Linked DNA regions of Homo sapiens. The protein of the gene in region 1 purifies or fractionates together with the protein of each later gene. This does not show direct contact. Each region holds a gene or a part of one and is shown on either strand. Other genes may lie near its edges. The genes, in order: NRROS and LAPTM4B.

The links.
Region 2: the proteins of NRROS (region 1) and LAPTM4B purify together in Homo sapiens (affinity purification with mass spectrometry; one large-scale study listed by BioGRID and IntAct). This does not show direct contact.

Annotation. Positions count from the first base shown.
Region 1 is NC_000003.12:196,649,558-196,653,375, forward strand, and holds part of NRROS (transforming growth factor beta activator LRRC33 precursor), read left to right. Parts: intron 1-3,818. UniProt on the Homo sapiens protein: Key regulator of transforming growth factor beta-1 (TGFB1) specifically required for microglia function in the nervous system.
Region 2 is NC_000008.11:97,782,122-97,785,939, forward strand, and holds part of LAPTM4B (lysosomal-associated transmembrane protein 4B), read left to right. Parts: intron 1-3,818. UniProt on the Homo sapiens protein: Required for optimal lysosomal function. Blocks EGF-stimulated EGFR intraluminal sorting and degradation.

The DNA.
Region 1 (3,818 bases):
ACCTCCCGGGTTCACGCCATTCTCCTGCCTCAGCCTCCCGAGTAGCTGGGACTACAGGCGCCCGCCACCGCGCCCGGCTAATTTTTTGTATTTTTAGTAGAGACGGGGTTTCACTGTGTTAGCCAGGATGGTCTCGATCTCCTGACCTCGTGATCACCCGCCTCGGCCTCCCAAAGTGCTGGGATTACAGGCGTGAGCCACTGCGCCCGGCCAAAATATTTGTTTCTAGCACAGAGTGCCCCGAGAGCTGCCCACTTTCTCCAGGAGACCTCTTTCCGTAAAGCTTTTTCAGCTTCTCTGATTACTTTGAGGAGAAAATTCTTAACTACGTGGTAACATACGTATGGCACTTGCTCAGAGCCCCTTTAGCGGAGAGGGTCCGGTCCCAGCTCTGGCAGCAGCTGCTCACGTAGTAGCAGTCAGGGGAGGTGGGGGTGGGGACGGTAAGGTGTCCGAGCAGCTCCAACAAGGAGAGGCCGTCACTCTGGCCGGGATAACAATTCAGATATCCAGCGTGCACCTGAATAGTAGAAATCCAGCATCCTTTTCTAAAAACAAAACAATAGCAAAATTCAGATCTGAGCTACTCTGTAGCATTTCTTTTTTTAGAGACAGAGTCTCGCTCTGCTGCCCAGGTTGGAGTGCAATAGCGAGATCTCTGCTCACTGCAGCCTCCACCTCCCAGGTTCGATTGTCCTGCCTCAGCCTCCCGAGTAGCTGGGATTACAGGCATCCGCCACCACGCCCAGCTAATTTTTGTATTTTTAGTAGAGACAGGGTTTCACCAGGTTGGCCAGGCTGGTCTCAAACTCCTGACCTCAGGTGATCCACCTGCCTCGGCCTCCCAAAGTGCTGGGATTACAGGAGTGAGCCACTGCGCCCGGCCATTTTTGTATTTTTTTTAGAGAGGCAGGGTTTTGCCACCTTGCTCAGGCTGGTCTCGAACTCCTGAGACCCAGTGACCCCCCACTCCTTGGCCTCCCAAAGTGCTGGGATTACAGGCGTAAGCCACCGCACCTGTTCGCAACAAACATAATTTCTAAAACAAAGGAGACTCTTTGCAGCGGCTGTACGTTCTTCTTCCTCACTGTCAGCATTCTCTTGTTGCAGAATACAACCTCCATTCATGTTGTTTTTATGAATGAATCTTTTTACCACTTTCTTACTATGACCAGGTCTGGAGGCAGAAAACCACGTTGTCTTCTCTGCCTAAAAAGCAACACCACATCTTCATAGACAAGGTTGGCTATGGAGTAGACTCACAGCATTCCATGATAACTAGTTAGAATGCAGCAGTGTTCCAAATGGGCCAAACCTTGTCCAGACAGGAGCAACAGGCAGCTCAGGGTCCCAGGAACACTCACCAGCTGGCAGCCCCTCGGGAAGCGGCTGGGCTTTCCACCTGTTCCTGCATGCTGGGCACACTCTGGCTTAGATGCCCTCTTACAGCTGCAGATGCTGTGGCGTGGTCCTCAGCCCTGAGGATGTGGGAGGAGAGGAAGCAGTCCTGTGCATGCAGGGGATGAGTCACGGGATTTTGCAGAGAGATATGGCAAGAGGATTGTTTATCTTGGACTCTTTGCAGTGCCATGGCTCTGAGGAAGCTCTCTGCAGCTACACACTCTACGAAGAGTGTTTCTCAACCTCAATGGTCACTATTTTGAAAGCCTTTTATTTCTTTACAGTCATTACATACTTTTAATTTAGCACTGGGTCTTGGCCATTCTCACATGATTGTATTAGTCAGGGTCCAACCAGGAAACGGAAACTGCCCAGATTATTTAAGACAGAGGATATTTAATGCAAGAAAGTGGCAACACATGGTGGAAAAGGCTGAGAAAGCAAATAAACAGTCAACACAGCGACGAGCAGCTTCAGGAAGCTTCTTATCCTCACCTAGGTAGGGTGAGGACAAGAGGAGAAGGTGGGCCAGGCACCATGACTCACGCCTGTAATCCCATCACTTTGGGAGGTCAAGGCGGGCAGATCACCTGAGGTCATGAGATTGAGACCAGCCTGGCCAACATGGTGGAACCTCATCTCTACTAAAAATACAAAAATTAGCCAGGCGTGGTGGCGTGCACCTGTAATCCCAGCTACTTGGGAGGCTGAGGCAGGAGAATTGTTGAACCCGGGAGGTGGAGTTTGCAGTGAGGCGAGATCACAACATTGTACTCCAACCTGGGCAACAAGAGCAAAACTCCGTCTCAAAAAACAAAACAAAACGAACAAAAACAAAGAGGAGGAGGTGGTGTCACCAGAGCCTAGGGGTCAGCGGAAGAAACTCTAGGATGTCTCTGTCCAAGGCAGAGAGGAAGGGAGAGAAGTATGCTGGATTCTTTCTGCCCTCTACTGTCTGACCTCCCAGGAGGAGTGTCTTCCATTGACTAAACCAGCAGAGTTTGTGACAGGTGACAGCAGTTTGAGGCCAGGTGACAGCAGAGTTTGAGATTCAGAACCTTCAGAAGTCAGAGCCCTGCCACACTGAGGAGGGCAGGGAAGGGGAAGGCGCAGCTCTGGGGACAAACCGCTGTCAGCCAGCATAGTCATCTGTGCTCAGGGCTAGCCTTGCTCTGCAATTTATGAATGCAGAGTTTTTAATTGAACCTTCCTGCATATGTTTTACATATCTAGTTGGTATAATTCATCCTTCCAGCCACATTACTCAGGCCTTTATTTTAGACTTTGTGTAGCTGTTGAACTACCTTGGAGATTACACAGGAATAACCAGCACTCAGTCAACTCACTGGTGTTTGGAACTCACAAGTAATAATTAATAATTGTGTTACTTGCTACCTTTACAGCCATGAAGCCCTTTCACATTCATGAGACTGGTTATTCTCATGCAACTCTGGAATAGTTATTATTACTCCCATTTTGTAGACGGATTCTCTGAGTCTTGGAGACTTTGTCTGAATTCCTAAAGGACAAATAACAAATAACAGAGGCAGAATTCAAACTCTGGTCTGCTTGGTTCCAAATTCCATGATCTTCCCATGATATCCTGCTGCTTCCTGCCAGGGCCACAACAAGAGTTTTTTTCTGGGCTGGTTGGCTGAGTTTAGGAGGAAGGAGAGGATATGTTTTAAACTTGCAAAATTCTTGATGACCCATAAATTAAAATGCCCCTCCTGAGTGTGACACAAGGCCTGGCTTGCCTTCCAGTCTGAAGGTTGCCTTTTCGCTGAGGGACCTGCACTCTTGCCCCTTACACGTCTAGATTCAGTTCTTCGATACGCAGGGCTGGCTCTTCCAGAGAGACTGGAGTCACAGCAGCAGGTACCACCCCACACCTGACAAGAGGTGGCCAGGGAGGAAGGGAGGGTTCTTACCTCCCCATCTCCCCTCAGTAAAATTCAGGATGCCCAGTGAAGTTTGAATGTCAGATAAACAATTTGTTAGTATAAGGATGTATCTAGCATTGAAATGATGCCTTGTAATTTACTAAATCTGCAACTATGCAGCCTTATTTCATGGCGGGCAGTGGTGGTGATCCCAGGTTTCAGGGGCGGGGAAGGGTGCTGGGGGGATCCTGAGGTCAGGAACCCGTACACCTCTGCTTCTGCCCTCTCTTCCCTGTGCCGGCCACAAGGCAATGACTCCTGTGTGGGTGCAGAGGCAGAAATGGGTCTGGAAGGGGATTCCCAGTGTCTGGCAAGTTCTGGTAAATTCTGCATTGGAGGTTCTCTCTGTAGTAAGGGGAGTTGGCCTGGCCTGAAGTGAAAGCTGGCTTACCCGGTTTCATTGAGCTCTTCAATTAGTCTGTTTGCACTGGTGAGCATTCAAATCTGATCAAGAAGGTAAAATGAGCTTTCAAG
Region 2 (3,818 bases), on another chromosome or scaffold:
AGGCATGCGCCACCACACCTGTTTAATTTTGTATTTTTAGTAGATAACAGGATTTCTCCATGTTGGTCAGGCTGGTCTCGAACTCCCGACCTCTGGTGATCTGCTCCCCTCAGCCTCCCAAAGTGCTGGGATTACAGGCCTGAGCCACCATGCCCAGCTTTTTTTTTTTTTTTTTTTTTTTTTTTGTGACAAGATCTCACTCTATTGCCCAGGCTGGAGTGGCTCAATGCAGCCTTGTCTTCCCTGGCTCAAGCAGCCTTGCCATTTCAGCCTCCCAAGTAGCTGGGACTACAGGCTCACACCACCACTCCACACCACTCCAGGCTTTTGTTTTTGAGACAGAGCCTCACTCTGTTGTCCAGGCTGGAGTGCAGTGGCGCAGTCTCAGCTCACTGCAACGTCTGCCTCCCGGGTTCAAGCGATTCTCCTGCCTCAGTCTCCTGAGTAGCTGGTACTACAGGCATGCGCCACCATCCCTGGCTAATTTTTTATTTTTGGTAGAGACGGGGTTTCACCATGTTGGTCAGGCTTGTCTCGAACTCCTGACCTCCTGATCCACCTGCTTCGGCCTCCCAAAGTGCTGGGATTACGGGCGTGAGCCACCGTCCCCAGCCTTTTTTTTTTTCTGAGACGGAGTCTCGCTCTTGTTGCCCAGGCTGGAGTGCAGTGGTGCAGTCTCGGCTCACTGCAGCCTCCGCCTCTTGGGTTCAAGTGATTCTCCTGCTTCAGCCTCCAAAGTAGCTGGGATTGCAGGCATGCACCACCATACCTGGCTAATTTTGTATTTTATTTATTTATTTATTTATTTATTTATTTATTTATTTATTTTTTAGTAGAGACGGGGTTTCTCCATGTTAGTCAAGCTGGTCTCAAACTCCCGACCTCAGGTGATCTGCCCGCCTTGGCCTCCCAAAGTGTTGGGATTACAAGTGTGAGCCACCGCGCCCGGCCTTTTTTTTTTTTTTTTTTTAAATATCCTTGTTCAGTTATTTTTTAGGAACTTAGACACAGCAAATACATACCAAATGCCTCTGTGCCAGACACTGTTCACAGGGTAGTTAGCCATATATCAGATTATAAAGGATAAAAGAGGTCAGAGTAGCTGCTTCATTGGCTTTATGACCTGGTCTTTCTTTTTAATTTTCTTTCTTTCTTTTTCTTTTGTTTTTTAATTATACTTTAAGTTCTGGGATACAAGTGCAGACCTGGTCTTTCAAAGAATCCACTTGTTCACATAGAAACTCACAGTTTCCTTGTTTACTCAAGTAAAGGAAACCAGAATATCTCACCCAAAATATACCTCTTTGGTATATTTCAAGATAGTATTAGAGAAACTGCAAACAAGAATAGCTCTGAAAAGCTGCTGTTTGTGGAGATTTGCATCTTTAGGGAAAATCTGCATTAGTGAAATAAACAGCCAGGCTTTCTCTGAGCACACCTCCCCACCCCATCCCCCATGTTCAGACCTTGGAAAGATTAACCGAGAGATTGAGAGTCTGACACCTTTGAAGGTCTAATAGAGAAGTTTACCACATACCACAGGCTACCAAGTATCTTTTCTCAAGCCTTCTACCTGTGGGGTCTCATTTGCATAACAAGACCACCTTCCCTAGCCAGGCCTTTCCGTCCCTCCCTCCCATAACCTGTTTTGCCGTGATCTAAACCCCTATTCTTTCTGTAACTTCAGAAAGACATTAAAACTTAAACCATCTGGCCCTTCCTTTGAGTTTTCTTATTTCTGTGACTCCCACGTATGCGTGTGCACGTAATACATTTGTATGCCGTTTCTTGCTGTTGATCTATTATCAGTTTGTTTATTAGACTCAAATGATCAAACCTTCAGAAGTTGTAGAAGGGGGAGAATTTTCTTCACCCCTTCACAAGCCTGATAGATTTTCTTTGTATTCTGAGAAGTTCAACAACTATTGATTTGTCTGAGTACAGGATAGTAAGACCAACATCCTGTATTTGTAGAGTGATTGATAGCTTTCGGTGGGCATTCACATTTGTTCTTATTTAGACCTCAAAGCAACCCTGGGTCACGCATGATAGGTGGTGATATGTTCTTTTAAGATTAATAGCTTCTTTCCAACTGTCAGATTCTGTGACTTGGCCCGTAATTTCAGGATAGAATAACGGACTGATTTGTGGCAATTGTGTCATCTTTATTGCCTGGTGTTTTCCCCACTATGTTAGATTGTAAAAGACTAAATAGTAGGCTAAAGAGTTTGGATTTTATTCTGTAGGCAGTGGGGAACCATTGAAGAATTATGAACAGGAGCGATATGATGAAAGCAGTTTTTTTTGGTTGTTGTTTTTGTTTTGTTTTGTTTTTTGAGACGGAGTCTCGCTCTGTCACCCAGGCTGGAGTGCAGTGGTGGGATCTCCACTCACTGCAAGCTCTGCCTCCCGGGTTCAAGCCATTCTCCTGCCTCAGCCTCTCGAGTAGCTGGGACTACAGGCGCCCACCACCACACCCCGCTGATTTTTTTATTTTTAATAGAGATGAGGTTTCAACGTGGTAGCCAGGATGATCTCAATCTCCTGACTTCGTGATCTGCCCACCTCAGCCTCCCAAAGTGTTGGGATTACAGGCATGAGCCACCACGCCTGGCCAATGAAAGCAGTTTTTAAGTTAGATTAAAATGGCAGGCTGTTTCAGATGGCTGGAAAACCAGGCAGTATGTTATATATAGCTCTCTAGATACAAACTATAGTGGGTATCAGCTCTTAGTGGTATGAATAAGATGGATAGGAATTTTTACCAGTTAGTGAGTGATACAAGTCTCTCTTTCTACCTAGGTTTTCTCCATCTGATTTAAGGAATTGAACAGATTTAGATAGGGAAGGACATTGGATTTTTAAAGTACAGGTTTCCCCTCATCTAATAAAGGATCAAGGGCAGTTCTATAGAACATTGGTTGGTGGAGATTTCAGTGGTATTCAATATCTTTTTAAGCTTTTATCACACTTTTTTTTTTTTTGAGGCAGTTTCATTCTGTCACCCATGATGGAGTGCAGTGGTGCCATCTCGGTTCCCTGCAACCTCCACCTCCCGGGTTCAAGCCCTTCTCTTGCCTCAGCCTCCCGAGTACATGGGATTACAGGCGCAGGCCACCACGCCTGGCTTAATTTAGTAGAGATGGGGTTTCACCATGTTGACCAGGCTGGTCTAGAACTCTTGACCTCAGGTGATCCGCCCGCCTCCCAAAGTGCTGGGATTGCAGGCCTGAGCCTCTTATCACACTTTTATGGTAAATGTTCATTAGAATGTTTTACAGACAAGGTGGCCAATAAATAAAGATTGCTATCAAAACTGTTTATTAATACCAATCACTCTCGGATTCACTTTAAATATATTTAACTTCGACCTAAAAGGAAGAAGCTGAGGCAAAATTAATGTAAGTAGAGAGTTTATTTGGGCCAGGCTTGAGGATTGCAACCCCAGAATATAGACTGACGTTGCCCTGACTGTACACACAGATTAGCAGCAGTTATAAGTGCATTTTTAAAGACTGAAAGGGGGAACAGGGAGTGTACTGATACAAAGTTGTTTGTCAGGAATTGTCCTTGATTTACAGAAACAACATTGGTTCGTGATTGGCTATCCATTGTTGAGCTATGCATTATTAGGTTAATTTGCAGCTGCTTGTGGCAATAGCAATCAGTTTCAACAGTTGAAGACATAGCTCAAAAGGGAGGGGGAGTAGAAAGTGATTGCTGTATCGTTTTAATGTCTCTCTGGGCCTGATAATAAAGACTTGCATCCCTCAGATAAAAGTTATTTTCTCAGTAACTTAGCATAAAGTATTAAGTTA